Linked DNA regions of Homo sapiens: region 2 is linked to region 1. Evidence: fine-mapped expression QTL. A gene starts in region 1. The other region holds a variant in brackets. All regions are shown on one strand. Distances are between the middles of the regions. Region 1 holds the start of RGS12 (regulator of G protein signaling 12). Region 2 overlaps RGS12 (regulator of G protein signaling 12).

Region 1 (16,118 bases):
CCAGGTATCAGCCACTGCTCCTAACCGTTTTCCACACATCATGCTATTTAAACCTCACAACAACCTTATTTTATAGACAAACTGCAGCACAGAGTTAGAAAAGACTGTGGGGGTGAGGTGAAGACCGCGGAACAGCAGCCACAGGCCAGGCTGAGCCTTTCCTCCCACCCTCAGTGAGCCTGGAGGAGACCCAGCCTAGCACACCTGCGTGGGGTCCAGGGGTCCAGGGGTCATGGGCCTCTGGAAAGTCAAAGAAGAGCCCATAGGCCCTATCCTTATGGTGCTCGCATCAGAGGAAGGCAATAAAGGACGCACAGTCTCTCTGCCACCAGGCTCATCAGGTTAGTTGACCCATCCAGGAAATGCATCTATTCTAGGCTAACACTTAAGATCCAGAAGTCAGGTGTTGGTAGGGGAAGAACTTTCTTTTAACTGGAGTGCTAGCTCCCTGATCACTTGAACGCTCTATGAGAAAAACAAGCAAACTGCCAAAGACCAATGCCTGGCTACTAATCAAAGTGCCGGCAGCTCTGTCCGTAAATTGACAGTTCCCACATCCTCCCACGCTGCTAAATCAAGTTCCAACCAGACACAAGACACAAAAACCAACTCTGGGAGGTCCTGGAGAGCTATGAAAAGCAGGCAGAAAGTGGAGGGGAGTTGTCCCCTGAAAGGAGAGAGCTGCACCAACTAAAACAAGTGTTTCTAAAAATGGCTAGAGCACAGGTAGAAGTTGTGATCCTCCCAGCTTGAAGAGTCCAAGATAGGGCTTGGGGAGGGCTGGGTGGCTGAACAGTGAGGGGCATATCTCAGAAAGGAGGTCACTGGGGAAGAGGCAGTCGTGAGATCTGTTAGTAAATTCTGCCTAGGTCCTGGCCAGTGGTGAGCCATCCATGCACAGAGAGACCCCAGAGTCCAGCAGAAGGAGGCAGCCGGAAGGTCAACAGCACCAAGCAGAGACTGCAGCAGAGATTTTCATTTGAGTCCAGACAAATTAACTTCCAGAACAAAAATCAACACTCTTCAGAAAAAAGAAGTCACTACAGTTACCATCTACAATGTCCAGTACACCATCAAATAACACTAGATGTTCAAAGAAACAGGAAGATGTGGCCCATAGTTGGAAGAAGCCAATAGAAATTGATCCTGAGGTAATGCAGGTGTTGAAATTAGCAGAAAAGAACATTAAAGCCGCTAGTATGTGTTCAAAGATTTAATGACAGTATGATCACAATAAACAAATGACAGAGCAGAGAAATGGCAACCATAAAAAATAAGTGAAAATTCTAGAAATAAAAACTACTGTAACTGAAATTTTAAAATGCACGAAACTTAATAGCAGTTTGAAGATGGTGAAAAATTACATATCCAAGAAGTTCAACAAACCCTGAGCAGGACAAATACAAAGCAAACCCTCCTAAGAACATCACAATCAAACTGCTGGAAGCCAAAAATCCCAGGAGGAGCTTGAAAGCACCTCATCATATAACATAAAGGAGCAACGCAGCTACCAGAGTGACTGACTTCTTAGAAACAGCAAAGGGGCAACATGACGAGACTATGAAAAAATAAAATGAAAAGTAAAAATTGCCAGTTGTGGGGGTGCATGCTTGTGTTCCCAGCTACTCAGGAGGTTGAGGCAGGGGGATCGCTTGAGCCCAGGAGTTTGGGGCTGCAGCGAGCTATGACTGCACCACTGCACTCCAGCCTGGGCAAAAGAGTGAGACTCCGTCTCTTAAAAAAAAAATTGAACAAACATCAAAGAGATCAACAAGATGAGAAAAAAGAGAATTAGAGGATCAACCTAGGAGGTCCAACCTCCAAATAAAAGTTCCAGAAAGAGAAAACAGCAAAACTGAAAGAAAATTATCTTTGAAATTTAAAAACTTCTATCCTCAGACTGAAAGGGCCCACGGAGTGCCCAGCACAATAAACGGAAGCAGATGCCATTATCGGGCTTCTCAGAACACTGAGGGAAAAGAGCCGCTTCTATGAGCTTGAGGCAGGAGAGATCACACACAGAAGAACTGAAATCAGAATGGCGTCAGACCTCAACAGCACAGAAACCAAATGCAATGAAGCAACATTTTCAAAATTCCGAAAAAATCATTGTCTAAAATTTTATACCCAGCTAAGTTAAAAGGTAATTGGAGAGTAAAATAAAGATGTTTTCTAAATCAAGGACCAAAAAAAATACCTATGTGATGTTTCTTAGGTATCAAAAGAGTAGGACTTCAGCAAAACGAGGAGTGAGCCAAGCAGAGAGAGAAGAGCAGGACCCAGTGCACAGGGAGCCCCACAGATGGAGGACAGCAGCGGGAAATGCAGGTGACAGCGGCGCAGCAGGTCTCCTGGAGACCAGGGCAAACGAGAGCAGGGAGAAGGCTCCAATCCCAAAGGGGTGGGGATGGGGCTAGTGTCCTGGATGCAATGAAAAACAAACCATTTTGATAGGTGGGTGACTAGAAGATGCTAATCCACAGGGCTGTGCGAGAGGACCTGTGCTCAGGGCACTCCTTGGCGCAGTAATGAGCAATGCTTACAGTCACACAAGAGCAAGGACTGTCGATTTCACCAAAAATGCAGTGATTATGATGGCACATAGAGGGACAGGGAGGCTGGTGGGACAGAGGAGAGCTAAACCTCCCCACGGCCTTTGGGAGAAATAAAAAAAGAATGTCTTAAGCTTTAAAGGAGCAGCTTCAACAGCAGTAAATGCCTGAGAAAACAGACCACTTAGGATCCCGCCTCTGGGGGCTGCGGCCAGGCAGGGCAGGAGAATGCCTACAACTGGACGCTTCAATCCACAGACTCAGCCCTTTTTCAGGCATGCTGGAAGGACAACTAAGATCACTGCTAAGGGACACAAAGATGTAGGAAAAGATATGTGAGTAGAGTGTGTATGCGTATCGGGTATCACCATGATTACAGAGTTGGGGACAGCAAGTGCATGGAAAAGCAGAAAGAAAAGAAAAACAGAAAGAACAAACTAGATGTTTCTTTTCTCTTTCACTGAAGTCCAGACCTTAAAAGACACAGAAGAAGGGAACTTCTAACACAAGAGTTCCTTGCCCGGAGCCCGAGGCAAGAGGCTCCTTCATGGAAGAATCTAGGCAACTTCTGCAACGGTGGCCCCCAAAACCACAGGTAAAACTGCATGAGCACTGTGTGGAGTATCCAGTTTGGAACTGGTAACGACCCCACCTCCTAAAAAGGCACAGCATGAGTGACCTCCCACAACCTCTCATGACTGGGGCTTGCATCCTGAGCAAGGCTTGTCTTCCTTCCCAGGACACCTGTTTCCAGGATGGCTCCCGCCTCTCCCCAAGGGCAGGGAAGTGAAACCACAGGGACCTTCCCTGGACAAACCCTGCCCATCCCAGAGAAGAGGCATGAGACGGGTGCTCCTCGCACACAATGGGAAAAGTGAAGTCATTTCGAAGACAAGTGAGGAGCCTGCTGTAGGCTGAATAGCGATCCCCAAAGATATCCAGGCCCTAATCCCTGGGACTGTGAAAGCCATACGGCAATACGGATCTGCAGATGTGAGTAAACTAAGGCTCCCAGGACAAGGAGATTATCCTGGAAATTTGAACATGGCAGAAGAAGACAGAAGCTAGGCGCGGTGGCTCGTGCCTGCAATCCCAACCCTTTGAGAAGCTAAGGCAGGAGGATCACTTGAGGCTAAGAGTTCAAGATCAGCCTGGGCAACATAGTGAGACCCCATCTCTACCAAAAAAAAAAAACAGAAAAAATTAGCTGGGCATGGTGGCACATGCCTGGGGTCCCAGCTACTCAAGAGGCTGAGGCAGGAGGATGGCTTGAGCCAGGAGTTCAAGGCTGTAGTGAGCTATGATTGTGCCACCGCACTCCACCTGGGCAACAAAGTGAGACCCTGTCTCTAAAAGGAGAAAATAAAGAGGAGGAGAAAGACAGCGATGTGACAATGGAGGCAGGGCAGGAGCCGGGAGCCAAGGAATGAGGCCAGCCCCCAGAAGCTGACCAGGGGGGCAGTTTTCCTCCAGCCCCCAGAAGCTGACCAGGGGGGTGAACGGCTCTCCTCCAGCCTCCAGAAGCTGACTGGGGCGGGCCAACAGTTCTCCTCCAGTGCCTCGGGAGGGAGCTTGGCCAGCTGACGATGACACCAGTTTCAGCCCAACTAGGGCAAATAAACTTTTGCCATTTTCAGCCACTAAGTGAGTGGTGCTTTGTTACACAGCAATAGGAAACTCATACAACTGGGAAGGGAAATGTTTCTAGGAATTCCACCAAATTCAAATAAAATGTAAAATGGTCTGGGCTTTAGGATTTTGTGTGCTTGAAGCCCTGCATGTGTTAAGTCGTAACTAATGAGTTGTTTATTCCTTCAGCCTGCTTTTTGTTGTTGTTGTTGTTGGTTTGTCTTTGTTTTTGAGATGGAGCTTTTTTTTTTTTTTTTTTTTTGAGACAGAGTTTTGCTCTTGTCACCCAGGCTGGAGTGCAATGGCGCAATCTTGGCTCACCGCAACCTCCGCCTCCCAGGTTCAAGCGAATCTTGTGTCTCAGCCTCCCGAGTAGCTGGGATTACAGGCGTCTGCCACCACACCCGAATAATTTTGTATTTTTAGTAGAGACGGGGTTTCACCATGTTGGCCAGGCTGGTCTCGAACTCCTGACCTCAGGTGATCCACCTGCCTCAGCCTCCCAAAGTGCTGGTATTACAGGCGTTAAGTCACTGCACCCAGCCCAGCCTGATTATTTTGCTTGGTCAGTCTCAGACAAAAATAAAGGTCCAAAGTCAATGTGATCCACATACTGTCAACCAGGCCTGCAGAGCCCACTCAGCCCCCTTCTATCAGCCGGAAGCGCTGACTAGCGGCAGCCTCAGCCTGTCCTCCATCTCCTCTACCCCCGACCTTCCCACAGCAGCAGCCAGGCCGGCTGGGTCACCAGCTGTCACCTCTGGGCCCTCACCACCTCCAGGACCTCACTGAGTCCCAGCTCCCAGCGCCACAGGTCTCCTCGGCCTGGCCACCCCTTCTTCCCCGAGACCCTCATCCTAAACAGGGCAGAAAGGGAGCCAGCCCTTGACCCTGGATTCCCTCCTCTTTGCAGTGCCTGTCGAGTGCCTCCCTCCCACCTCCTGACCCTCCCCAGGACATGCCCTCAGGCCGCGCCACCCCTGCCCTCTCCTGAGCACTCCACAGGTCAGTACTGTACCTCCAGTCCACGTGAGGGGCCTTTCCTCCGCCCTTGTCTTTGTCAACCTCCCTGAGACCTCCGGTCACCACTGCCCTGTCGCTCCTCCCTCTGCTCTGCCAGTCACAGAGGCATCCGCATCATTGCAGTTACCAGGGCTAGAACTGTAAGCCTGTCTGATGGCAGGTTCCAGCCTCAGGAGGTCTCAGAGATAAGGCTGGACTTGCAGTTTTAAGAAAAAGACCCAGACAGGGGTGCACCAACTTGTGCAGGCTCAGCCACCCCACTGCCCTTGCCTGAGCCCCTGCCCTCAGCCAACATGGCCTCCCCCACCTGCAGAGCATCCAGCTGAGGCACCACGCAGGGCCCGGGCACCGGATACCCATCATCTCAAGTCCCCAAAAGCACTGGCCACGATGGACCTTTTTATATCGCTTTTTCAGGGGAAGAAACTTCGCACTGTGACAATTACTTTCTAAAGTGAAATATAAACTGGTTCTCCCTTACTCAGAATTGCTCTGCCCTCCCCACGTCGCCTTCTCTAGGGGAAGGCCAGCAGGACTCCACCCCAGCAGCCCTTGCTGCCCAAAGCCGCCTCTCTGCCCTCCTTGGTAGTCTCCTTGCTGTGAATGGTGGGGCTGCTGCCTTGCCTGGGAAGGCCCCCCAGCGCCCCTTCTGTGCAGGCCTTGCCGGCCATCCTGCACGTCCCTGTGGCCTCAGAAGGGCCCTGCACAGGACGGCATGGACCACGCTGAGGACTTCAGACAAAGACACTCTTAGCCCTTGCAGCAGCTCCAAAGACAGGTCCAATGAGGAAACTCAGGCACAGAGAAGGTGGTCACCTGCCCAGGGACACATTCCCAGCAAGTGACCAAGCAGGTGAGAGGCCAGGTGGTCCTCTCTGTCCACACTCCACGGCTCTGGGCCCCCTCTGTGTTCACCCTCCACTGTCTACACTCCATGGCTCTGGGCCCCTTCTCTGTCTGCACGGCTATGAGACTCTGTCTACACTCCACAGCTATGGGTCCCCTCTCTGTCTACACTAGATGGCTCTGGGCCCTCTCTCTGTCTACACTCCACGGCTCTGGGCCCCCTCTCGGTCTACACTCCACGGCTCTGGGCCCCCTCTCTGTCCACACTCCACAGCTCTGGGCCCCCTCTCTGTCTACACTCCACTGTTTATACTCCATGGCTCTGGGCGCCCTTTCTGTCTACACTCCACAGCTCTGGGTCCCCTCTCTGTCCCCATTCCACAGCTTTGGGCCCCTCTCTGTCTACACCGCACGGCTCTGGGACCCCTCTGTCTACACTGCACAATCGCGGCACCGCGGCTGAGGCGACCCCAGGTCGCTGCAGTGCGTCTGGAGTTCGGGTCTCGGAAGGCAGCTTCTGCCCTAACAAAGCGGCCGCTCGTGGAGTCCGACGAGGGAACCCTCCCAGCGCTCCCGGGCGCATCTCGCCCGCGGGACCCCCTGCCCGGCGCCGCCCCCGCGGGTCCCGCCAAGGGCCCGGGCGGGCCTCACAGCGCGGGGCCCCAGGAGGCCGCGCACCCGCCCGGCCGGAGGCCCCACAGGCCCGCGCCCCGCGCCGCCCGCCCCCGCCCCCGCCCCGCCCCGCCCCGCGCCGGGCCCGGGACCAGGAGCCTGAGTCAGGCCGGCGAACAAAAGGCAGGGCGGGCGGGCGGCGACCCCGAGGGGACGGGCGCCGCGCAGGGCTGGCCGGGATCGGCCGGGAGGCGGAGGGCGCGGGCGCGCGCCCCGGAGACGAAAGAAAGAGCGGAGGCGGCGCGCCCTGCCCCCGCCCCGGCCCCGGCCCCGCACACCTACCGGGCCGCGCCGCTCGCTCCCGCTCCGGGCGCTTCGGCCCGCGCCACCGCCCGCGCGCGCAACGGTCGCCTCGGCAGCCACCGCCCCCCGGGGTCGAGGCGAGGGCGGGGCCGAGGCCGGAGGAGGGGCGGGGACGGAGAGGGGCGGGGCGAACCTGGTGAGGCGGGGCCAAGGGGGTGGGGTTGGGGCGGGGCGATGCGGGGGCGGGGCACGGGGCGGGGCGAGGGCCTTCGCGTCGGGACAGCGTGGTAACGGGACTGCCAGGGAAGCAGGGATGAGAAGAAGCGAGGGACGGGGCCTCCACGGCCGGGGGCGGGACTTCCGTTGGGGGCGCGGCGGCGCTGGTGCGCACGGTGTGTACCCGCACTGGCCCGGCCCTGGTGCTGGGAGCGACTGCGTTCCCGCAAGCTGGTTTTCTCTGCCTCCGCTGGCCCGGGACACCCTGCGAAGGGCAGGTCGGTGTGGCCGGGAGGAGCCGCCCCTGCCTGGGCTGTCTCTGTCCTTCGCCGTCGGTGTCCGAGGAAGTCCCGCTCCCGTTGGGTCTCTGTGCCCGGGAAACCTGGCTGTGGGGAGTCAGGCCCCGGCGCCCTGGCTTTTCGGCTGGGCAGATGCCCGGAGCTGGCGGCAGCTTCGGGGGCGGCGTGAGTTCCCGCGGCGAAGCCACGGGGACAGCCAGGAAAGGCCGTTCCCTCCGGGCCCCGGGACGCCCGCGAAGGCGGCGCGGTGACTGCGGCGTCCAGCGGGTCTGCCCCTCCCGGAGCGCGGGCAGCAGCGAGGGCGGGACCGGAGGCACCGCTGGCACGAGAGGAGGAGCTGCCCGGCCCCGGCCTGCGCCTCTGGCCCTGTCCCAGCCGCCGCCTTCACCCTTTAGGCCGGAGTTCCTTCCTCGCCCTCTTCGTGTCTTCCTTCCCCGGCGCTGGGTCTCCCTGCCCCTTCCTTCCTGCCTTCCCCTCATTCTCTCCCGCCGCGTTTTTCCCTCGAGACGCATCCGTCGCTGCTGTTCACGCTCCAGCCCTGCCGCCCGCCCAGGGACTCGGCCCCTCTCGGGTTTGCTTCTTTCCTGTCACCTGCCTTGATGGGCTCAAAACGCTTCCCCTCCGTCCCCGCCACCGCCCCATGGTTTCTTGGCAGCTCTCCATCATCTAGTCTTGTGTGATTAGTTTGGATCCCAGGAGGAAACCAATGGCATTCTCAGTGGGACAATTAATTAAGAGTCCAGCAGGGTTCCCGCTGGCAGAGGCGCGGTCCGGGAGCCGGGAAGCCACAGGGCGGTGCTGAATTGGGACAGGTAACAGCAGGGAGGGAACTGTTTTCACCTGCAGGGCTGAAGGAGCGCGGCCAGAGCGGTTACAGGAAGCCAGACAAAGAGAGAGAGATACTTAACAGGAGCTGCGACCTATGGCCAAGGGACACAGCCAGCCCTTGATGACCCAGCAGAGAGAGCCAGGGAAGAGGCCAGGCGCGGTGACTCGTGCCAGTAATCCCAGCACTTTGAGAGGCTGAGGCGGACAGATCGCCGGAGCTCAGGAGTTCGAGACCACCCTGGGCAAGATGGCAAAACCCCATCTCTACTAAAATACAAAAAATTAGCCAAGCGTGGTGGCACGCGCCTATAGTCGAAGCTAGTTGGGAGGCAGAGTCAGGAGAATCACTTGAGCCCCGGAGGCGGAGGTTGCTGTGAGCCGAGATTGTGCCACTGCACTCCAGCCTAGGTGACAGAGTGAAACTCCATCTCAAAAAAAAAAAAAAAAGAGCCAGGAAAGAAACTGCCCCCACCCTGGCCCCCCCAAAACTGTGGACCTTCTTGGCTCCTGCCTATGCGCAGATGGTGGAATCTTCCAGAGCAGCGCCAAGCCAGAAGGAAGCAGGCCGCAGAGCTCAGCCTCCTGAGGCTCCAGGGCAGGGACAAGTGGCCCTGAGTGAGAGATGGGGAAACACCACCTGCAGGTCTCTTCTTTCCCTTTGGCTTTTTCCTCTACACTTGCCCGGCCTCCAGGTGCCTCATGGACAGGGGTAGGGGAAGAGGACGAGCAGCTCATACGAGGGGTCACCGAGCCTGTGAGAGAACTCATGCCCAGCAGGGGGGTGGCCCAAGAAGCTGTTTCTGTGGGAGGAAGCACCCTAGTCCATCCCCGTGAAAGCCAGGGCCCCCAGAAGTGGGGAGAAATTGCCTGAGACGGAGAGAAGGTGTCAAGTGTCATGCTGGAAGGTTTTGAAAAGGTAGGTCTTGCCAATTAAGCAAAACTCATTCAGTCCATCTGGAGGGGCTAGACACAGAACCATGCCCAAGTCTCTGGGTGGTCAGTCCCTGGCCCCTGTGGTTCTCCTCCTGTAGGCTTCACTCTTGGGCCCAGACTGGCAGGGCGGCCTCTGTTGGCACAGGGAGGGCCATGGAGAAGCGTGCACCTGCTCTTCCGTGCCTGCCAGGCAGCGGCTCAGCGGCCCTACCCACAGCTCATAGGCTACAGTTGCTTAAGGAGGCACTCCTGAGTTGAACAAGTGGGATGGATGATAATTCTTCCACGGGACTCGGGGTGTGGGGGCGTCCCCCCACATTCCAACACAGGCTACGACACGGATGACCCTTGAGGACACTATGCTAAGTGAAATAAGCTCGTCACAAAGGACAGATACTGTCTGATTCCACTTATAGGAGGTTCTTAGAGTAGGTACATTTATAGAGACGGATAGTAGAAGGGTGGGTGGCAGGGGCGGGGGAGAAGAGGACAGAAGTTATTGACAGTTTCAGTTTGGGAAGATGGAAGCATTCTGGAGATGGGTGGAGATGTTTGCTCAACAGTGTGAAGGTGCTTGATACCCCTGAGCTGTACCCTTAACAATGGTTAAGATACAGCCATTATGGAAAAGAGTATGGAGGTTCCACAACAAATCAAAACTAGAACTACCGTGTGATCCAGCAATCTCATTGCTGAGTATGTATCCAAAGGAAATGAAATCAGTGTGTCAAAGAGACGTCTGCACTCCCAGGCTCAGCACGGCACCACTCACAATAGCCGGGATGTGGAACCCACCTAAGCGCTCGTCGATGGATTAGGTGGATAAAGAAAACATCGTGAATTACTGAATACTCTGGAGCCTTAAAAAGAAGGAAATGTGCCATCTGCAACAACACAGATAAACCTGGGGGACATTATAACAGTGAAATAAGCCAGGCACAGAAAGACAAATATTGCCCGGTCTAACTTACATGTGGAATCTGAAAATGTCCAAGTCACAGAAACAGAGAGTAGGATGCAGGTTACCAGAGGCTGTGGGTGGGTAGGAATTGGGGAGACATTGGTCAAAGGGCACAAAGTTTCAGCTATGCAGGATGAATTAAGTTCAGAAGATCTATTGTACAGCATGATGACTAGTCAATAATAATGTACCCTTGAAAATCTCTAAGAGTAGATTTTAAATGTACTCATCACAAAAAATGGGATGTGAATGATGGGACACATTAATTAGCTTAATCACTCTGTAGTGTAAACATATATCAAAGCATCAGATTGTACAATTTTTCATTTGTTAATTAAAAATATATAAATATACTATGGGATTTGCACTAATTAAAAAAGTAAAAAATAAAAATTGTAGGCCAGGCACGGTGGCTCATGCCTGTAATCCCAGCTCTTTGGAAGGCTGAGGTAGGTGGCTCACTTAAGCTCAGGAGTTGGAGACCAGCCTGGGCAACACAGTGAAACCCCGTCTCTACCAAAAACACAAAAAATTAGCTGGGCGTGGTGGTGCGTGCCTGTGGTCCCAGCTACTCAGGAGACTGAGGCAGGAGGATCACTTGAGCCTGAGAAGTGAGGTTGCAATGAGCCAAGATCGCGCCACTGCACTGCAGCCTGGGCAACAGAATGAGATCCTGTCTCCAAAAAAAAAAATTGTGATGGTTAAGTTGGTAAGTTGTACGTCATGTGTGTTTTACCCCAATAAGAAAACATGTAAAACAATGTTCTCTGAGGGGCCCACACCTTACTTGGGGACCTGGTTGTGGGTGTCCTCAGCAGGTGGAGGCTGATAGGGGGAGGTGGGACCTCGGACTGGGTCCCTCCCACAGCAGGGCAACAGGATCCTGATGGCAGAGGCAGGTAGATGCACTTCCTGGGCAGGGAATGGCAGGCAGAGTGGGCAGCCAGGCTGGAGTCAGCCCACTCTAGGGGCTACACCAATGGGGCTCGTAGGGGTGGGGGGATGGCGGCTCACTCAGGGTTGACGGCGTCCATAATTAGAGACAAGGAGAGCTGGGAGCTGGGACCTGGGGCCCCTGAGGCCCCCAGCAAGCCACATGCCTCATGCAGTCTCCATGTGGGAATCGGTGCAAAGGCCCAGAGTCCCTTCACGGGGACCGGATCCCTTTGCAGAAGGCCCTGGAATGCCCTGTCAGCCTCTAAGCAGGTGTTTCCCTAGCCTTCCCTTGGGCCTGTGGCAACATGCCAGGGTCCATACGTCCCGGAAAGGAGGAACCTCCAGACTTTGGGGGCTTGCTTGTGTCAGGGTCTGAGCCGACCCAGGCAACAGAGGAACCCAAACCCCATCTGTCCTCCCGAGAGAGTTGGGGTTCGTCAGAGCTTGACCAGGTCCACCTCAAGGGACACCCATGGGCCTGCATGTCCCCAGTGAGTATTTTCCTGGCCCCAAAGCATGGGGGAAGCTGTGCCTCAGGAGCTGCACCAGGAAGCCAGGCCCAGAGGGGAGTGCTGGTGGCCAGGCGTCCGGCAGGCCTCTGCGCGGCTCACACCCTTCCTGCCCAGTGGGGATGCTGCCCACACCCACGGGGCCCCCTTGTCAGCTGCCCCCCTCCTGTCAGGGCCCAGCTCTGTGTCACAACCTTTGTGAAGCCAGTGTCCCCACTCCAGCCCCAGCCCTCCCACACGCCCACCAGACCCCACACACCCGCCGGGCCCATCACTCTTGGGGGTCTGCGCACACTCCCCATGCGGCAGTAGTTTATCTGCCATCGAATCCTTGTGTGCGCTCAGAGCAACGAGCACGCAGGCTCAGGGAGCTCAGGGCCAGCAGGTACGGGCCCACGGTGTCTCTCGACGGCTCGGCCATGGGAGGGGGAGGACCCAGAGGGACTCTGGCGCTGACGCTGGGAAGCAGGGCAGGGATGGAGCGAAGGGGCTGGCGTGCCCCCAAACAGAGCTAAGGGGACAGGTTTGTGTGGGGCCCGGTGAGTTTGGGGGAGATGTGGGAGCTGAGGGCCCCCACCCAGGCCCCGTGGGACAAATGAGCCTGCCAGCCCCTTGCCTGCACTCTGCCACATCTGAAATGCTCTGTCCCGGGACTACCTTCCAGGTGGGGCAGCCTCCTGTGCCCGTGTTGTGGAATTCACCATCAGTGAGCAGATGAAATAAATTAAATGAAGCATAATGTTTTTAACCAGAATACACAAAGTTAATTAAATAGAGCATATTGTTACTAAGTAGAGCTCATGGCAATTAGGGACGTTGTCACCAAATAAAATATGCATTAATTAAGTAGACCATATTATTCCTACACAGAACTTCCTCGGGCCGCCAGGGCCAGGGGCTGGGGAGGTCCCAAAGGCCAGCGGGCAGGGGCAGGTTCAGGAATCAGGAAGGGCTTGGCCACGTGTGTGGCGTGAACCCCTCCTGTGGGACCCGGCTTTGAAATGTCTCTTCTTGTCAAAGAACCGAAGCTTGGCAGCAACAGAGCTGCTCCAGCTGGAGGAATACCAATTTGGAGAAGATGTCCTTTTTTTGTTTTTTTTTTCAGACCATGTGATGTGCCTTGAGAAAATGTATGTTTAGGAGGGTGTTTTCCTTTACAGAAAATAAACGTGAAATAAATCAGAAAGCATCGCCTCAAAACAAGAAAATGACATCGGAAATGTTTTAAATGTTGCTCTTCGAGTCCACCTTGAACAATCACGCAAACGCCGCCCTCCCGGGGCTCTGCACAGCGTCGGGGCCTGGGCGCTGCTCGCTCTTCCGCTGTTCAGTGAGCAGGTAGCGCTCAGAGCTCACCTTTTCCCGGAGGATTATAAAAGAACTAGGTGCCCCTTTTTCTCTGTCTTCCTCAGTAACTCCCTAATATATGCCCAAAGCTGATGCTGGCCCCAACCCATTCACCCATCAAGTCCCAGATCACCATCATAGCCAGGTCCCCGAGGCCTCCCCAGCCCGAGGGAGCTCCCGGCCTGGGCGGAATTCCACTCAATCCTGCCGGAGCAGCGTCGGCTCCCGCAGGCACTGCTGACCGGGCTCCCATTCGGTGCCTAGCAGCGCACTAAGGGCCTGACGGGGGCTCTCTGACCCTCTCACAACCCTGCACATGCCCGTTTACAGATGCAGAAACTGAGGCCTGGGGAGACAAAGTGCTGGGAACACGTTCCCGCTGAGCCTTTCCCCGGTGTGCAGCGCTGGCCCCGCCTGGCTGCCACAGGCTGCCTTTCCTGCCCCTGACCCTCATTCCTCCTCACTCCCTCGCCCTGCATCCACCTGCGGGAGGGAGGAGAGCAAACCCCACACCGCAGCCCCCAGCACAGGCTTCCACCCCAGGAGGCCGGGGGAGCAGGGCCCACAGGGGCTGGCTTTAAACCAAGAATGGAGCTTGGATTAATATCTCAGGGTTAGGGTAATGGATTTGGACTGACTCTGAATTGAGACTGTATTTGCCAGTTGAGTGACAGAAGCTGCTTTTTATGTAGGAGCACACAGAAAATCCCCAGGCAGCCAGGAGCTTTCAGGGCCGGAGGAGGTTTGCCCACCGCATACGCAGTAATGGGGAACAGAAACCGGGCAGGCTGCATTTGGTGATCTCAGGAGAAAGGCTTCCTCAGTGTGTCGAAAGAAACCACACGCGGCCTGGGGCAGAAGACCTGCCCTTAGGGTGGCCGAGTGGCCTCTCCTGGCTCTAAGCATCAAAGGTCCTGCACCCCTGGAACCTCCTCGGTCCTAGGCAAAACAGACAGTTGGTGACCCTCCCTGTGGTGGCCTCACGAATAACCAGAAGGACATGCCAGGCTGGACGGAGGCACTGCCTTGCTCACCTCAGGCATCTGGGCTCCTCTCCACGTTCCCTGGGCTCCGTTCTTTTGGTGACGGCCCCAGCGGTCCCTGGAGCGCAGCCCGGCACACCGGCAGGAAGTGGTGAAGCCGTGGCTCCCTCCATCTGGGCTGGTGTTTGCAGGACATTTTCCTCACGGCGAAGCTGAGGGGTGACAAAGGAGTCTACGGAGCCCTGCCCCAGGCGCGGGCGCTCCCCAGGGCATGAGAACCCAGAGTCCCGCCCATGCACAACTCCTGTGCCAGGACACAGCCTGGTGGCTCTGACCAGCCAGTCGACAGAAGTCTGCTCTGGAAGGGGACTGGGGTGGGGGCAGAGGGGATGAGGAGGAGCCGGGAGGCACCACCTCGAGCTCACCCCCAACGGTGACAGTGGGGCTGGGGCTTGTTCCGGGGCGGGGCAGCCCGCCGGACCCAGCCCGAGAGGTTAAGCGCGCGGCTCGGGTCCTGGAGGCCACCACGTGGCCTGCGTCCTTGGGCCCTGGGAGCTTCCAGGGCTGAGGAGGCCACGGACACAGGACTTACAGGACAAAGGGAGGTGTAGCAGAGCGCTGGGCACCAGTCCCCCTTCCTTCCAGGCCCCCGTGCTCCCAGAGGCCCAGCCACGCCACCCTGGCACACCCTTTGTCCCTCACATTGCTCTGGTCACTTCAGTCATGACCCCCAAAACAGGCCTCTGCTGGAGCCGTAGCACTTGCTATGAATAGAGAGCGGGAGCTGAAGGAATGGTTTCCGCACGCTGCCTGAGCGGCCGCCTCGGTCTCCCCTTACTGCAGCCAGCCCGCAGGTCCGGATTCCCTGCCTCTGCTGTCCCACCATCCAGACAAGACCCACCAGCTGGGCCACCTGTCAAGTCCTCAGTGGGGGCCACTTTTCTGCAAATGCCCCAAGAATGCTATGGGGCTCTCCGTATCAGTGCTGTCCAGAGAAACAGAATCCAGTAGGGTGTGCAGATAGACAGAGATGCAGAAAGAGAGGAAGGGGAGAGACTGATTTTAAGAAATTGATGCATGGGCTGGTGGGGGCCGGCAGGTCTGCATTCTACAGGGAGGCGCTGGCTGGCTGGAGACCTGGGGAGGAGCTGCCGCCGCCCCTCAAGTCCAGAGCACCGTGCTGGCAGCCTTCCCTCCTCCTTGGGAGCCTTTTTCCTCTCAAGCCCTTCAACTGCTCAGATGAGGCCCACCCACACCGTGGAAGGTCATTGGCCTCACGTGCAGTTCCCTGACTTAAATGTTAACCTTATCTAAAAAATACCTTCACGGTGACATCTAGACTGGCATTCGACCAAACACTGAGCACCGTGGCCTGGCTGCTACCTCTGCCTCCCACTGGATAGTCCTTTTTTTTTTTTTTTTTTTTTTTTGAGATAGGGTCTTGCCCTGTTGCCCAGGCTAGAGTGTAGCAGTGGGATCACAGCTCACTGCAGCCTCAACTTCCCAGACTCAAGCCATCCTCCTACCTCAGCCTCCTGAGTGTTGAGATTACAGGCATGCACCACCGTGCCGGCCCTCACTGAATGCTTTTTTTTTTTTTTTTTAGATGGAGTTTCGCTCTGTTGCCCAGCCTGCAGTGTAGTGGCGTAATCTCGGCTCACCGCAACCTCTGCCTCCCAGGTTCAAGTGATTCTCCTGCCTCAGCCTCCCAAATAGCTGGGACTACAGGCACCTGCCACCATGCTCGGCTAATTTTTGTGATTTTCAGTAGAGAGGGGTTTCACCATGTTGGCCAGGCTGATCTTGAACTCCTAGCCTCAGCCTCCCAAAGCGCTGGGATTACAGGCATGAGCCATGCGCCCCGCCGGATGTTTCTTAATGTCGCCCAGCGGGGCGGTGGGGTAGTTTAGGGAGCAGCTGAGCAGCCAGCACACACAGATTCACCCCCACACCCGCCCTTCAGCCCTCCCCTCCAGGGCATCCTGCTGGCGCTTCCCATTGGCCAGGGTGAGCTGGGCTTCAGCCAGCCCAGCAGATTGCTCATGCCGCCCCTGGGGCTCAAGCCAACAACCCAATTCCCAAACCCAGGTGGATGCCATCAGCCAGTGCAGTCCCGTACGGCTTCCTGCTTAGCCTGGCAC
Region 2 (16,118 bases), 46 kb before region 1:
ACACACCAAAAAAGGAAACAGGCCATATATTATAAAAAGTCTCACCCAATTCCCTATGGTCATTTGATTTATTCAACTGGTTGTCTTTAAGCCTATGTTCATGACTCAAAACATTATGCAAACTAGGATTGTCATATTATTATTAATTTCACTCTGCATTTTCCCTTTATAAATTTTTTATCTGTTGCTTAAGTCTCTGCAGAAGTACAACTCCTAACAGAATCGTGCTGGCCCAGCGCGTTGAGATGATGCCAACACCCATGGAACAGACAAAACCGTACTTAACAGTGGACTCAGGTAGACTGCGCCTGAGGGCCACTCCCTCCACACCTCCCTGGTTGCTCAAATGTGGCTAAATGAGCTCTGACACTGACTCCTGGTCACCAGTCACTTCCTGATGATGTGGAACCAGACCACACCAAACTGGGACAGCTCCATCCCAGCACCAAGGGGCAATCAAAGCCTGACTGCAGGATGACTGGTCAGCTATGCTTTTGGAGAAAGATCTCAATTAAAAGGGGGAAATGTGAAAGTTGTCAGAAAGAAAATGGAGTCACTTGTATTAAAAACCCTAACAAAGTGTTACAGAGCCAGAGAAGGCCAGGAAGGGAGGGTTCTCATGCTCATAGACCTGATAACAAATCCATCACAAAAGACTGCAAAACCACAACCTTGCACACAGGCCATCTCAGCCTCACATACAAAAATATTCCTCTGAGGACATCTGTCCCGCAACTGCCTGTCCAACCTTGGACTGGTCCCATCCTTGTAAGATAATTATCTCAAAACAATCCTGTGATCCTCCTCATTTTTCCTTGAAAAACTGCTGTCTTTCTTGACCTCCCTGAATATTCATAGTTTACTACAGCATGCATATTCTCATTGCAATGCCTATTCCCAAATATTAATAAATATCGTTTTCTTACAGAGAGCCTTCCTCCGTGTTATTCAGGACGATGGGCTCAAGAGGCAAACCACCCCTCACTTGGGAAGGCTGCTCAGATCCCTCTCCAAGGAGTCATGGAAGGCAGCCAGCAGCGAGCAGGGCCCACACAGAAAAGGACAGGCAGCCCTGCCACCTGGGCCATCCTCCTTGGCCCCAGTAAGAGATTTACAGCCAGGAAGTTTAAGGTGTGGGGCAAAGACAGCAGGGACCACAAGCCATGTGGAAAGCAGCAGGGCCCTGGTGGAGATGGAGCATCCACTGGGGACACCCAGTGATTAGACGCTGGAGCTGTCTATCAGGAGCATGGCACTGACCCTGGCATGGGGCACACCCAGCAGCAATCCACCATGAGATAGAAGTTTACACCCAGCAGGGAAGGGGCAGGTTGTGCAGAGCACGTGGCCCAGACCCACATATCATTCACCAGGGCACCAGCACAGCTCTGTCAGCCCAAACCTAGGGCCACACAGTGAGTTCCTCATGACCAACAGAAAAGGAGGAAAATGAACAGGACTTGTGCACAGATGGTCAGCTCAGCATGGCAGTATGAGCCAAAAATGGTCCCGGGGTCCTCAGCCTCAAGCTAGGCCCTGCCTTAGGTAGCACACACCCCTTTTGAGTCTTCATCAGCAGCATGAGCACCCCATTGCAGCCGATTCTGATTGCTGCCCGCCCAGATACAGCACGCTAGCCCTGACCTGCCCTCGAGTTCCCCGGAGAGACCAAAGCTAAACAGGCCATCCAAGGGCAGATTCCTATTTGCAGCCACAACGTGCCAATCCCCAGGACCCCTGCCATCCCTGAAGCCACCTTTTCTCCTGGAAGAGCAGGAGCTGGAGCAGTCACTGTGGACGGAGTCTGGCCACACCGCTCATGCAGATCCTTCCCAGCTAAGAACACTCTCGCCCGTCCCACACGCGCTGAAGGAGACATGTACAAGAATGCCGTAAGGGCAGACTCTCTCCCACTCCCACTGAGTGTCTATCGATAGCGGAAGGCATCAATCATCGTCATATACTCATAGCAGAATGCCATACAACAAGTAAAAGGACTGGACTGAAAGTCCAGGAGTAAATCTTGAAAACATGACACATGTTCTAGAATAAGACATTAATAAGAAGACATAGAATACAGCTGCACCTGTATAAAATTTTAAAACATGCCAAATGAGACAGTCAAAGGATCAGTGGTTGTCAGAGTTCAACGGGAGGGTGCAGGGTAAACAGGTGGGGCATAGAGGATTTCCAGGGCGGCGGCTTTCTCGGTGATACACAGCGGTGGGTGCACGGCACGGACATTTGTCCAAACCCACAGAGAGGACAGCACGGGCAGGAACCCTCGTGTGAGCTGCGGACCTAAGCTAATAATCATATGTCTACACTGGCCTGTCAACTGTAACAAACACCCACACCAATGCAGGACGTAATGATCCCGACGGCGCATTTTTAACAAGTGGGTGGGGGCATAAGGGAACTCTCTGTACTTTCTGTAAACCTAAAACTGCTATAAAAAATAAAATCTTTTCATTGTTCTTTACAAAAGAAACACAGATAGACGAGCCACACAAAATGACACTTACCCATGTCTGTGGATCACGCCCCGTCTTTAAGGGGGCAATGACAGGCCCTACCTCGTAGAGTATTTGTGGGGATTAAACCAGCTCATTTCTAGAAGTGTTCACTGGAGTCTGGCACACAGAAGAGCACCCCAGAAAGCCCTGTGACAGCTCAGACACATTGCAGGGTAGAAAGGTTCCCAAATGTGCATGGGACGCTGTCCCCCAGAAAACAGGGGTTACCACTACAGAGGAGGAGGGGAGGGGACCACAGGGACTCAAAAAACAGCCAGACGTATCTGCAAGGTGGACTTGCATTTTTTAAAACTTGAAGGAGAAAAGAAGAAAAATGAAAATTAAATTACCTCAAGATCATCAAGGGAGCGAGTGATACTGAATCTCTTGGATCTCCCAAATGATCTCCGAGCAGACGTGCGTTGAGAAGGCTGAGTGAGTCCAGTTCCCCGCCCAAATTTTGAGCCCTAAACACGAAGAAAAAAGGCATCAGGTTATTCTTTTGCAAAGAGATGTTTAGTCTTGTCCAATGCATGGCATAGCAGAAAATCAAGGAATACTGTGGAACAAAGACTTTTTAAAAAGAGAGATTTAAAAGTCATCCCAGGGTAAATCTTAGGTATATTTTATACAAGAAAAACATGCAAAATTGAAAAAAAAACAGTCATCCCAGGATCGTCAAGTATTTGCTCTGCCAACTGTGTGCCTCTGACAAAGCCTCCACCTCTGTAAACACAGAACAGGATGACGGCAGCCCACCCACAAGGCTGTTACCCAGATCAAATGAAATCACGTGCAAGGGTGCTTGGAAAGTGGACACAGTACACTGAGAGTAAAGATGACTAGTATGATGATTAGTAAAGATGAAGGCAGGTTTTCAGCAAAGTCGTGCTTTTTCATAATTTTGTAAGCACTTTAGGAAATGAAAGAATCCCTAAGCATTCAGCTGGTGTCTGAAGACCCAACCAACTCCGGCGCAGGAAATAACTGGCTATTAAAACATCCTGTCTCTCCTCCTCCAGGAAATGACCAGAATTAATTCAATTCGACAAACATCTATGTTGTGCCCATCATTATGCTAGACACTTCCCCAGATGAGAAGCTGGCTCCAGCAAATCAGTCGCCACCTCTTAAAAACAAAAAGCATCACAGTTGGGAGCTCTGCTTTCCTGAGGACTTGGAATCCTAAGTGACCAATTTCAGGCTTGAAGGAAGGGAACCTGTTTATGTCAAGATTTTGAGGCTCTGCAGCTACTTTTGTCTCTCCACCTGCATAAGAGTCTTGTAGAAAACCTTGCCACAATTCCTTGAGAGTCCCTAGGGAAACCTACAGCATGCCTGCACCTTTCTGGAAGCAGATGGAGCAGGCCACCCTCCCGCCTCTCCCCTCTCCTTGACCACCACGCTGACACACCCCATCATGTCCTCAGACCCATTCCCGCCTGGGTCTCCCTGCACTGCGCTGCTCCTCCTCAACTGAAAAGTCCTTCCTACCCCACCCATTGTCACGGCCCAGCCCCACACCACCCCACACCCCGGGGCCTCTGCAGCCCCTACCCTCCGCCCACACCTCCATCCTCCACCCTCCCTTCTGTCCACACCCCCATCTCTCCACCCTCCCTCCCCCCACACCATCTCTCCACCCTTGTCCCCTCCCCACACCCTCATCTCTCCACCCTCCCCTCCGCCCACACCCCCATCTCTCCACCCTCCCTCCCCACACCCCCATCTCCCCTCCCCCCACACCCCCATCTCTCCACCCTCCCTCCCCCCACACCATCTCTCCACCCTTGTCCCCTCCCCACACCCTCATCTCTCCACCCTCCCCTCCGCCCACACCCCCATCTCTCCACCCTCCCTCCCCCCACACCCCCATCTCTCCACCCTTGTCCCCTCCCCGCCATACCCCCATCTCTCCACCCTCCCTCCCCCCGCACCCCCATCTCTACACCCTTGTCCCCTCCCCACATACCCCCATCTCTCCACCCTCCCCTCCGCCCACACCATCTCTCCACCCTCCCTCCCCCCGTACCCCCATCTCTCCACCCTTGTCCCCTCCTCCCCCATACCCCCATCTCTCCACCCTCCCTCCCCCCATACCCCATCTCTCTACCCTTGTCCCCTCCCCCCATACCCCCATCTCTCCACCCTTGTCCCCTCCCCACCGCACACACCCCCATCTCTCGACCCTTGTCCCTGCCCACACCCCCATCTCTCCACCCTCCCCTCCGCCCACAGCCCCTAAAGACGGGCAGAGGGGTGTCACTATCCTCTTGGCAGGTGAGAGGTCCAGCACCCAGGGGCTGTGGCTGCCGGGAACACGAGAGGATGCTCGGGGAGGGACGCCACCACTGGGCCCCCACCAGGCCGAGAGAAGGCTCTAAGGCTGTCATCCTGAAAGTGGCGATGCCCAGCAGAGGGCAGCCGGCAGGCAGAGGCCTAGAAGCACAGCGGCCAGGTGCCAGATGGACCGGCCAACACAGGTGTCAAGCACACTCCAAGCTGAGGCGCCACAGTTGCCAGCTCACTCCAAGGCACTAGTGGCACAACTGCTTGTTTTCAAACTAAGGAGCAGGCCCCCGTGCACGCCGTGCCTCCGAGGCTGGAGAACGGACTGCACTGGCCTGCACCGGCCTGCACCTGCCTGCACCTGCCTGCTGCTCCCATGGGGCTCAGCTCAGGCTCCCGCCAGCTCCTGCCTTCTGTAAATCAGCCTGTAAGACACTCTTTGGAGGGAACCTGTGGTCCCATTAGGACACAGATGTGGCTTCCTGGTGTCTCTGCTCCTGATGGCAGGCACCTTGAGTGTCCTGCCAGCGTGCTCTTCTGTGGTGACTGATAAATTGCCACCCCCGCTCCCTCCTGCTTAGGCTGGCGTCCGTGTCCACGCTCTGGGTCCACACCCCGGGCGCCCGCCTCATGGCCTTTGTGCATGTTCTTCCCTCCCCTGACCCCTCAACCCAAACAACCCCTCTTGTAAGAGACCTTTAAGCCCCCGTCTAAGTTAAGACTCCCCAGCGTCCTCTCTCCCAGTCTTTGGGTCTTTTCCTTCCCACCAGTGACACCGCTGTCAGCCATGAGGAATCTCCCCCAGGGGACTGCCATGGGACGACAGCAGCAGCGCCCTTCGCTTCGTCTGATGCTGTCTGAAAACTTGCTGCCCAGCACAGCGCCCGGCTCCTGGCAGGTGTGCGGCCCCGGCAGAGGGGAGGCCTGAGAAGGCGCTGGGCAGTGCTCATGAGACACACGACACGGAGGCCACAACACGGGGGACTGACTGCCCAACAATGGGGAGCGCAGGGCACCTGTACGGCATGCAGACGTGTGTTGCGGCAACAGCAATAACGGGAAATGTTCAGTCCACTGCTAAAGCAATGAGTGACTTTGTTCTCATTATAGATTTGCTATTCTGTATTTTCTGCTCTTGAGAAGGGTGGGGAATGAACCCATGGCTTTGTGAGATTAAGGCTGTCAGAATCAAAATGAATCACTTGTGTTAAAAACCCTAACAAACAGAGCTGGGGAGGGCCATGAAGGGAGGGCTCACACATTAGTGTGCCTGCGAAAAACAAATCCATCACAAAGATGTGCAAATCACAGCCATGCACACAGGCCATCACAGCCTCACTCAAAACACACTGTGAGGACATCTGCCCAGCAACCGCCCGCCCACCTCCAGCCTGGTATCATCCTTGGTGCTGATCCTTGTGGCAAGGATAATTATCTCAAAACAATCATGTGATCCTCATTTTTCCTTTAAAAGCCTTTGTCTTCTTTGGCCTCCCCAGCTATGCACTGTAGACCATGGCAAGTATCTGCCTACTCCAATGCCCTGCTCCCAGATAAACATCATTTCTTTCAGAGAGCCTCTCTCTGTTATTTAGATGGACAGTGATAAGAGAGTTTAATTTTTTTTTTCTTTTGAGACAGGATCTCACTCTGTCGCCCAGGCCGGAGGGAGAGGTATGATCATGGCTCACAGCAGCCGCGACCTCCCAGGCTCAAGTGATCCTCCCACCTCAGCCTCCTGAGTAGCTGGGACCACAGGCATGTGCCAACAGGCCCGGCTAATGTTTGTATTTTTTGTAGAGACTGGGTCTTGCTATGTTGCCCAGGCTGAGCTGAAACTCCTGGGCTCAAGCAATCACTTACCTCAGCATCCCAAAGTGCTGAGATTACAGGTGTGAGCCACCACACCTGGCAGCCCTGACCACGCCCCAGGTGAGCGGCCCTTCCACAGTCAGCCTTGCAACTTGTTCCCAGCACAGGCAAAAGAAAGGATGTCTGACGCCTGCCCACACGTGGATGCACTGTGCACTTTGGAGATGTAAAGGAGAAAGGAAAAGTCTAACAAGCAGACAGAAAACAATTCTTGCAAAGCACTAAATCAACTCATGGAACGAGGGCCAGTAACAGATGTGACAACTTCCACAGCAGGGAGAGACCAGCGTTTACTCGTGTTTCTCAAATTGACAAAGTTTTGTAAATTAATAAATTCAGATCATCACCGCCGATTTAGCACCCCTGCTGGTGTGACATAATCTTGACTCTTCCCCAAAGAGTACTAAACAGGGAAAACAACAATAAAAATGGCCTAAAAGACCACTTGGTTCAAACTCCAGCTTTTAAGTTGAGAAGACTCCTCACGACTGTCTGAGAAGACAGGTGGCCCCCAGGGCACCATCTCCACCTCCCAGCCTTCGGCCACCACACCCAGCACTCAAGGGCACTGAGTGGAGCAGACACCGCCCGCCCGCCAACCACAGAGGCCGGTCACCCTGGCCCCCAGGCATCCAGGATGCAGTGAGCCAGCCTGAGCCAGCCGGCTTCAGGGAGAACCAAGGGCCTCAGGCCAATCAACCTGCCTGGCTACAGGGTCCCAAGGGACGGCCGGTCAACCGGCATTACTACCACACACAGGCCCAGAAAAGCATCGGGTTCCCTCCAAAGTAAAACCGCTAGAAATGAGGGGAGGGGAAGGGTAGAACCTTA[A/C]CCCCTGCTCAGGTACCAAATTTCTTGGCCACTCTCAGTGCCAACAATGAATTGCTGGGCACAGTGGCTCACGCCTGTAATCCCAACTCTTTGGGAGGCCGAGGCGGGTGGACCACCTGAGGTTGGGAGTTTGAGACCAGCCTGACCAACATGGAGAAACCCTGTCTCTACTAAAAATACAAAATTAGCCAGGCATGGTGGCACATGCCTGTAATCCCAGCTACTCAGAAGGCTGAGGCAGGAGAATCGCTTGAACCTGGGAGGCAGAGGTTGCCGTGAGCTGAGTTCACACCACTGCACTCCAGCCTGAGCAACAAGAGCAAAACTCTGTCTAAAACAAAACAGTGAATCATCCCATGCGACCATCAGTTCGGAGCAAAGAATCATTTTGGCGTAAGAACCATTCCAACGCCTCAATCCACAGATGAGAACTGGGAAGTCAGGGAAGCAAGTCCGTGCAAGGTCACACAGCTCATGGCTGACCTGAGACAACACCCAGCTCCTGCTGTACTACTGCACTGCCGTTTTTTATTAAACTTTCAAAATATTTATTCAATCTGATTTTAAAATCCAGATAACACAAAATTTACCAAGTTAGCTGGCTCAGTAGCATTAGGTGTGTTCGTACTGTTATGCAAGCATCACCACCGTCCTCCAGAATTTTTCATCTTCCCAGAACGAAGCTCTGCCCCCATTTAACACGCACTCTCCATTCCCCTCCCCCAGGCCCCCTCTCCCGCTTTCTGTCTTTATGAATTTGACTGCTCTAGGAATCCCACATAAGTGGAATTAGATAGTGTGTGTCCTTCTGTGACTGGCTGATTTTGCTGAGCATGGTGTCCTCAAGGGTCATCCATGTTGTAGCCTTCCTCTTCAAGGCTGAATAATATTCCGCGGTATGGATGGACCACACTGTGTTTATCCGTCACCTGATGATGGACATCTGGGTGGCTTCTGCCTTTCAGCTATTGCAAATAATACTGCTATGAACATGTGTATAAAGAGCATCTCCTCAAGACCTTGATTTCAATTCTTTGGGTATATACGTAGAAGTAGGACTGTGGGCCATGTGGTCATTGTACTGTTGGTTTTTTGAGGAGCCACCACACTGTTTCCCATGGTGGGTGCGGCACTTGGCATTCCCAGCAGTGCGCCAGGACTCCAACTCCTCCGCATCCTGCCCAACACGGGTCATTTTTCTCTCTTGTGATGGTGGTGGCAGTTGTTTTATAGTAGCCATCCCAAGGAGTGTAAGGTGCTGACTCACTGTGTGTTTAGTTGGCGCTGGCCTAATAATTGATGATGTTGGGCATCTTTCCACGTGCCCATTGACTACTTGTGTATCTTCTTTGGAGAAACGTCTATTCAAGTCCTTTGCTCATTTTTTAATTTTTCTTTTTCTTCATTTTTTTTTCTACTTCACAGTTTCACACTGGATCTTTGCCCATTTTTTTTTATTTTAATTTCTCTTTATTTTCTTTTCTACTTCACAGAATTCACACTGGACTTTTGCCCATTTTTTAACTGGGTTGTTTGTTCCTGTTGCTGAGTTATAGGAGTTCTCTATAGACTCTGCATATTAACTGCATATCAGATACATGGCTTGCAAATGTTTTCTCCCATTCTGTGGGTTGCCTTCATTCTGTGGGTTGCGTTTTTTAATGTGTAGAGTTTTTACATTTGATGTAATGCAATTTATGTATTTTTTTCTTTCGTTACCCACACTGCTAGAACTAAAAATTCCTAACCAATTCGGTCTAAATAAACACTAGTCCCTAAGCCCCAGTGGGGCAAGGACCATGTCCTGGTCACGACTACACCCCCACCCCTCCCACAGTGCTTGGTGCATACCAAGTACTCAATGAATACTTACTGAACAAATAGACTGTACACAAGAGAGTATGTAGCTTAAAAGAGAGACCAGATCATCCGAAGGTATTTCCAAAAAGAGGCAATATAGAGACTTACGAGGAGTCAGATTTCTAGCTCACATCTTCGCATCTCCTGCTATATTCTTCAGGGTTCACTCAGGAGACAGAAACCACCCGTAGTTCTAACAGAGAGTACTATGTAGAGAAGGGGTAGCTTGGTATTGAGGGATGGAAAGGCAGAGGGACTCTGAGATGCCATGGAGTAGCAACCTCGGGAAGCCGCTGCCACCCCAGGGCTGGGAAAATGCAGGGAAGCAGAAGGAATTACTCCAACTTGGCAGCTCACAGGAAAACAGCCGGTGGAGCTGGGGCCCAGACCACCGAGGGACAGGACATGGGGCTCCAGCCCTTGGGTTTTGTTTGTTTGTTTGTTTGCCTGCTTGTTTGTTGAGACAGCGTTTCACTCTGTCACCCAGGCTGGAGTCCAGTGGTGCGATCTGGGCTCACTGCAACCTCCACCTCCCAGATTCAAGCAATTCTCCTGCCTCAGTCTCCCAAGTAGCGGGGACTACAGGCACGCACCACCATGCCCGGATAATTTTTTTGTATTTTTAGTAGAGACGGGGTTTCACTATGTTGGCCAGGCTGGTCTCGAACTCCTGACCTCAAATGATCGGCCTGCCTTGGCCTCCCAAAGTGCTGGGATTACAGGTATGAGCCACCACGCCCGGCCCAGTTTTTTTCGAATTTTTAGAGTTGGGAGTCTCATTCTATCTCCCAGGCTGGAGCGCAGGGGTACGATCATAGTTCACTGTAACCTCCAATTCCTGGCCTCCCAATATGCTCGGATTACAGGTGTGAGCCATGGCACCCAGCCCATCCATTGTTTCTGAGGGGCCAGAAGGTTGGCGCAATGAGCTGGGCAAACTGCAAACTGAGAGGGGAAGGAACTGCCCCTGTGAGGGTGAAACGTTGCTATGGTGACACTCCTGCCTTGCCAGCTCCGGGGAGCGCCCCTGGGGACAGAGCCTGACAGGGATGCAGCTGTGAGCAGGAAGGTGATGCGGAGACCCTGTCGGTGTCATAGAGGGTGGGCTTAGGGCTGAGGGCAGTAAGCTGAGTAACCGGCACACCTGGTTAAATCTGTTACAAAACTCTGTGCGGCAGGAAGAATTCCAAGCCCAAAAGCAAAACTATTTTAGAATCAACAAAATTCCATTTCAAACATAAAACTAGACAAACTTACAGCAATGGTTACAGAGTAACGTGTAAGGAACCAAAGAAAGGTTTCTGGGTCATAGCAAAGCACGTTTTGTGAAAGGAAGGAGAAAAATGTGCACAAAGACTGGGTGTCCTATTCAAGAAAGAAAAAGATGAATATTACACATGAAAAGACATTTAAGTAGAGATATTAATTTAAATTATTCCAAAATATCTTAGGGCCTATGATGTCCCAAGCAATTGACTAGGACTAGAACCTTTAACGACAGAAACAAAGCACATAATTTCTTCACCGGTAAAGGAGGTGGGTGTGGACTAAGGAAATAAACCAACCAGGCTTGAAATCAAAACAAAACAAAACATAAGGCAAGAAAGCAGGGAGGGAGAACCTAGAAAAAGTGGATTCACAGGAAGAATGCAGTAATATCCCAGAGCCAAGACTCAATGTGCCAGTCACCCAACACATCAGTGACCCGCATCTGCCTGATCTTCTTCTTGAGCTGTCAGAACAATCTGCCACTTATAGTAACAATTCGAAAACAGAAATGGAAAAGTTTAAATAAAAAGACGAGTGCTGACTCAGAAAAGGCTGCTTTCACCAGATTAATAATAGACAAAACAGGCTTTATCCCTAATTTTAAAATTTTTAAATAAAAAGTTATTGAAATCCTCTGGAGGGAGGATAAAAATAAAATATAAGATTCAATATACGAGGAAAAGGAGAAGAAAGGGAGGGAAAAGAGAAGGAAGAGGAATAGAAAAGTTCTACCATTAATTTTTTGTTTTGTGAGACTACAGTAATCTTGATACCAAAACTCGACAAAGATAATGAGAAGGGAAAGTACGAGATAGTCTCACTCAAACACAGACTTTAAAATTATACAAAAATAGTAGCAAACCAAATACATCAGTGTATAAAAAATGATCATAAGTTAGGTTTATCTCAGGAATGCAAGTATGGTCTATTATTTGAAAATCAATCATTGTAATTTGCCATGTTAGCATCAAAAGGCAGAAACATGATCTCAATGAATGCAAAATAACAAAGAAAACAGCTAAAATTTAACACCTATTCATGAAAACAAATATTAACAAGTAGTAACGAAGTGAACTCTCTTAACCTTAATAGGGTAGCTAGATATAAAAAGCAACTAGTCAATTATACTTCCACATATCATAAGAGCTGGCATGCATAATTTATTCTATTTTAATTCCTTTTTCAACCAGCTTCCTCAGGTTGAAGCATTTACAATTTTTAAAAGGTACCATTTATAATGGCAAATAAAATTATAAGGTACCAAGAAATAAATCTAGCTAGAGAATAAATTTAATTAAAGATGTTTATGAAGGAAATTACAAAGTTTTACTGAAATAAGCCAAAATGAGAGAGAAGAGAGATACTATTTTCATGGATAGGAAGGCTTGATCTCCTAAAGATATCAATTCCCTCAAACTGAGCTACAGATTAAAACACAAAATATCAATAGCATTTCGGGGAATTTGTAAACTGGTTGTAGAATCTACATAAAACAGCGAGGCCCAAGCACAGACAAGAAAACCTGCCCTAGAAGACAGAAAGACGTATTATAAAGCTATAGTAATTTTTTAAAGTATAGGTGGGGATACTGACTAGGAAGGAACACAGAACTAAGAAACAGACCCACACGCACATGAACACATGATCCATGACAGAGGGAGCACTGCTGATCCACGTGGAAGGACGAGATTAGTGCTAGAACCACTGGTTACCCACAGAGAAAAAAGTTAACTTTCGTCTCACCTGATTCTTTTCATAAACATTAACTCCAAGAAACTTTAAGGGGAAAAAGGGAGAAAATCTGTTTTGACCTCAAGTAGTAATAAATGTATTAAATAAGACACAGACCGGGTGCAGTGGCTCACGCCTGTAATCCCGGCACTTTGGGAGGCCAAGGCGGGAGAGGATCACTTGAGGTCAAGAGTTTGAGACCAGGCCGGGCACGGTAGCTCACGCCTGTAATCCCAGCACTTTGGGAGGCCGAGGCGGGTGGATCACGAGGTCAGGAGATCGAGACCATCCTGGGTAACACGGTGAAACCCCGTCTCTACTAAAAATACAAAAAATTAGCCGGGCAAGGTGGCAGGCGCCTGTAATCCCAGCTACGCGGGAGGCTGAGGCAGGAGAATGGCGTGAACCCTGGGGGACGGAGCCTGCAGTGAGCCGAGATCGCGCCACTGCACTCCAGCCTGGGAGACGGTGAGACTCCGTCTCAAAAAAAAAAAAAAAAAGAGTTTGAGACCAGCCTGACCAACATGGTGAAACCCTGTCTCTACTAAAAATATAAAAATTAGCCAGGTGTGGTGGCATGTGCCCGTAATCCCAGCTACTCGGGAGGCTGAGGCAGCAGAATCGCTTGAACCCAGGGAGGCGGAGGTTGCAGTGAGCCGAGATCGCACCACTGCACTCCAGCCTGGGTGACAAAGTGAGACTCCATCTCAAAAATATACATATATAAAAGACACAAAGTGTAAACCATAGGAGAAAAGATTATACATCTGGCTAGAAGAGTGAAAACAGGAGTCATGCCCGGGGCAGGGACACGTGCGAAGTGCACAACCAGCCAGGGACTAACAGCCAGCGTCTATCATTCCCGCAGTCCATGAGGAAAAGACAGCCCAAGAGGAGAGAGGGACCAAAAGGTTTGAGTAGGCGCCTCAACAGAGAGGAAACGCAGAGCCTTATAAGCAAGGGAATGCAAATCAAAGCCACATGAGACACCACTTTACAGCTCCCAGATTAGCAAAAGATTTAAAAGTCTGGCAAGCCTACCTGGAGACAGGTACAAGAATGCTCACTAGTGCGTTATGAGTAATTCTTTAGTGGCTCTGTGTATGTAGCAGTAGATTCACACAATGGATTATACAGTGTTAAAATGAACAGACTGTGACTACCAATAACATCATGGATAAACCACTGAAATAACATGAAGTGATTAAAAACAAGTTGCAGACAACTGTGTTATTAAGCCATTTCTATAAAACTGAAGCAGCAGCAAAACGAATCAATACACCGCCACCGATTCCAACTCTTAAGACACTTCCGGTTCTGCAGGGATGTGGCGGCCACCTTGCCCTGAACAGTCTCACTTTCCTGGAAACCCCATAGAACACGAGCCAACAGTGAAGGGGCCACACTGGTCTCTGCCCCTTTGCTCAGGGATCCTCTACCTCCATGGCCCCCAAGCCATCTGTCCTAGTGATCCCAGCTTCTCAGGGAGCCCCTGCCCTATTCCAGGACGGTGGGGGCTTCTGTCCACTGCTTCCCAGCCCCTCCACAGGCCTGAAGCTGTCCTCACTGCGATACCATTCCCCAGAGAGCGCACTCGGTGGCCGTGGTCAGGATGAAACCCATGGGCAAACGCTGCAGGGACTAGGAAAGGTCACCTGGTGCAGGTGGCACAAAGCCCCAGGTCCCCAGCTCTGCCGCAGGCCCATGAGGCTCCTCTCCCTGGAGCCGCCGTTCCTTCCCAGGACTGGGTGGACTCCGAGTGCCGCTGCCCAGTGTCTGCCTCCCTTCCTTTCGCTGGGGATGGAGAGCAGTGCGATGCTGGCCCCCGGGATCCCTGTTTACACAGCGTGATGGCCAACGCCACCCTTCCCAGAGAGACTTACATCATGGGGCCTGAGCTGTGACCCTTTTAGAATTATCCACACTTTTTTTTTTTTTACAATCTATTTTGAAACTTCCTCTCATTGTACTGGAAAAGCAGCGTAAAATCTATGTGCTGAACCTGAAACTCTCCTGGCCTGCAATCCAAGGAGCCTGTCATTGGCTACACCATGTAAGTACAGTTTGTTTCCAAGGCCATCTCTCACCGACTTTGTTCTTATTAAAATAATTTTTTAAATAATTTTTACTTTTCCTTCAAAGGAAGTTTTTTTTTAGTAAATATGTTCATATTCCCATCATAAGAAGTTGAAACAACACAAGATAAAAATTCCCTGGATTCTTCCCAGTTTTCATTTACTACCTCTGAGATAACTACTATTACCCATTTGGAGTGTTTCCTTTGTATTCTTTCCATATATTTACATATAAACATATGTGCACTTTAAAATGTATAGGTTTCTTTGAGGGGTGTTAGAATTTTTTACACCAAAACAGGATATTAAATATATGTGTTTTTGTGACTTGCATTTTCCACTCGATATGCCCTTGGGAGCTTTTCCTATCAGTAATGTATTGATCCGCTTTGCGTGACAGGCTGCTCGCCATTCCTGCAAGAACCAGTCTCCCCTTCTTCCACAGGAATAGAAATCTTAGCTAGACACACGGCTGTCCAGCTAAGGACTACATCTCCCAGCCCTTTGCACTAGGCAAAGCTACATGACTAAGTCTGTCCAATGAGATGTGTGCAACTTCCAGACTGTGCCTCCACCTCCCTCTTCCTGCTGAAGGAAATGGGGAAGTGAAGCTAAAGGAGCGATCTCAAAGTTCAGGGCAAAAGCCACATGTGGAGAGCAGCAACCACACAACAGTAGGCACCCTGGGTTCCTGAGGAGGGTGGAGCCTCCACACCAGCTCTGGAGGGTTTACTCAAACTATACTTCTTTATCTAAACCACTATTATTTTAATTTGTGCTGTTATAGCATAGAAACTCGTATTACTTTAAAATGAGTGTATGGATCCCATAGTATGGAAATACTACATTTTTTTTACTCCATTGTCAACAGACAATTTCATTCAATCAAAAAAAATATTAAGTGCCTTCTAACTGCCAGGCACTGTTCTAGGTGCTGTTGTTGCGAACAGGCTGCCAATAAGATCCTGGATCACAATTCTTCACGCCCTTCTAGTACAGGTATCTTCTCTCCCTGAGTGAAGGAAGAAGGCAAGGAGGAGGAGCCTGTAGTCCATTCTCTCACTTTAACTGGGGTTACCCCAGACAAGAAAGGTGACCTAATCAAATCTCCCTGTAAACTTGCTAATGAAAGACCTCCTGGCAAACCCAAGGATATTTGCTAGCAGGAGAATCCTTATCTGTGGAATGCCTTCAGCGGGATGTACTTGGTGTGTCTAGGATTGCTCACAGTAAATAAACTTGGAATCCTAGGAGTTATGGAGTATGGATCCCTGAAAAATGCCATATAAACTATGCAGCTCTCAGAGTACAAAATGGAGATACTTCATGGTCAACAGCTTCCTCCATGTGACTGATGTAAGCAGGTGCATTTGCTTAGAGACCTCCCATGTGAAATCTGGGCCAGAGCACATCCTCACACAGCAAGAAAGAACCAGGCGGTGTACTTGGCAGACAGCTTCTCTCTGCTTCTATAAAGCCTCACGATTACATGTGTCCTAGAAATTATTAGGAAGCTTGATATGCAATAAGATCAGTGACTCCCAAAAGCTGCACCTAACAGTTTTATCACTGTGTTCTCTTAAAGGGAAAATTTGTTTTAAAAAGGCAAAGGAATTCCTTCTCTTACTCCTTCCTCAACTAAACGTAATAGACTGAAATTTTGCACTCATGGACT

What was found. PIP is the estimated chance that this variant, and not a neighbour inherited with it, causes the effect.
Region 2: its variant is fine-mapped to the expression of RGS12 in whole blood (GTEx, PIP 0.97). The same link has a PIP of 0.9 or more in blood mononuclear cells.

The regions. Positions count from the first base shown.
Region 1 is chr4:3,283,986-3,300,103 of GRCh38, reverse strand. It overlaps RGS12 (regulator of G protein signaling 12), which reads right to left and starts at 7,083. Exons shown (of 18, transcript NM_001394154.1): 1 at 7,005-7,083. RefSeq lists silencers at 4,729-4,924, 6,948-6,997, 7,008-7,487, 7,668-7,777 and an enhancer at 5,709-6,294.
Region 2 is chr4:3,329,802-3,345,919 of GRCh38, reverse strand. RGS12 (regulator of G protein signaling 12) reads right to left here. Exons shown (of 18, transcript NM_001394154.1): 3 at 2,867-2,983. Among named protein-coding and RNA genes, the nearest start is that of RGS12, 45 kb to the right of the region's middle. The variant A/C (reference allele first, on the strand shown) is at 7,509.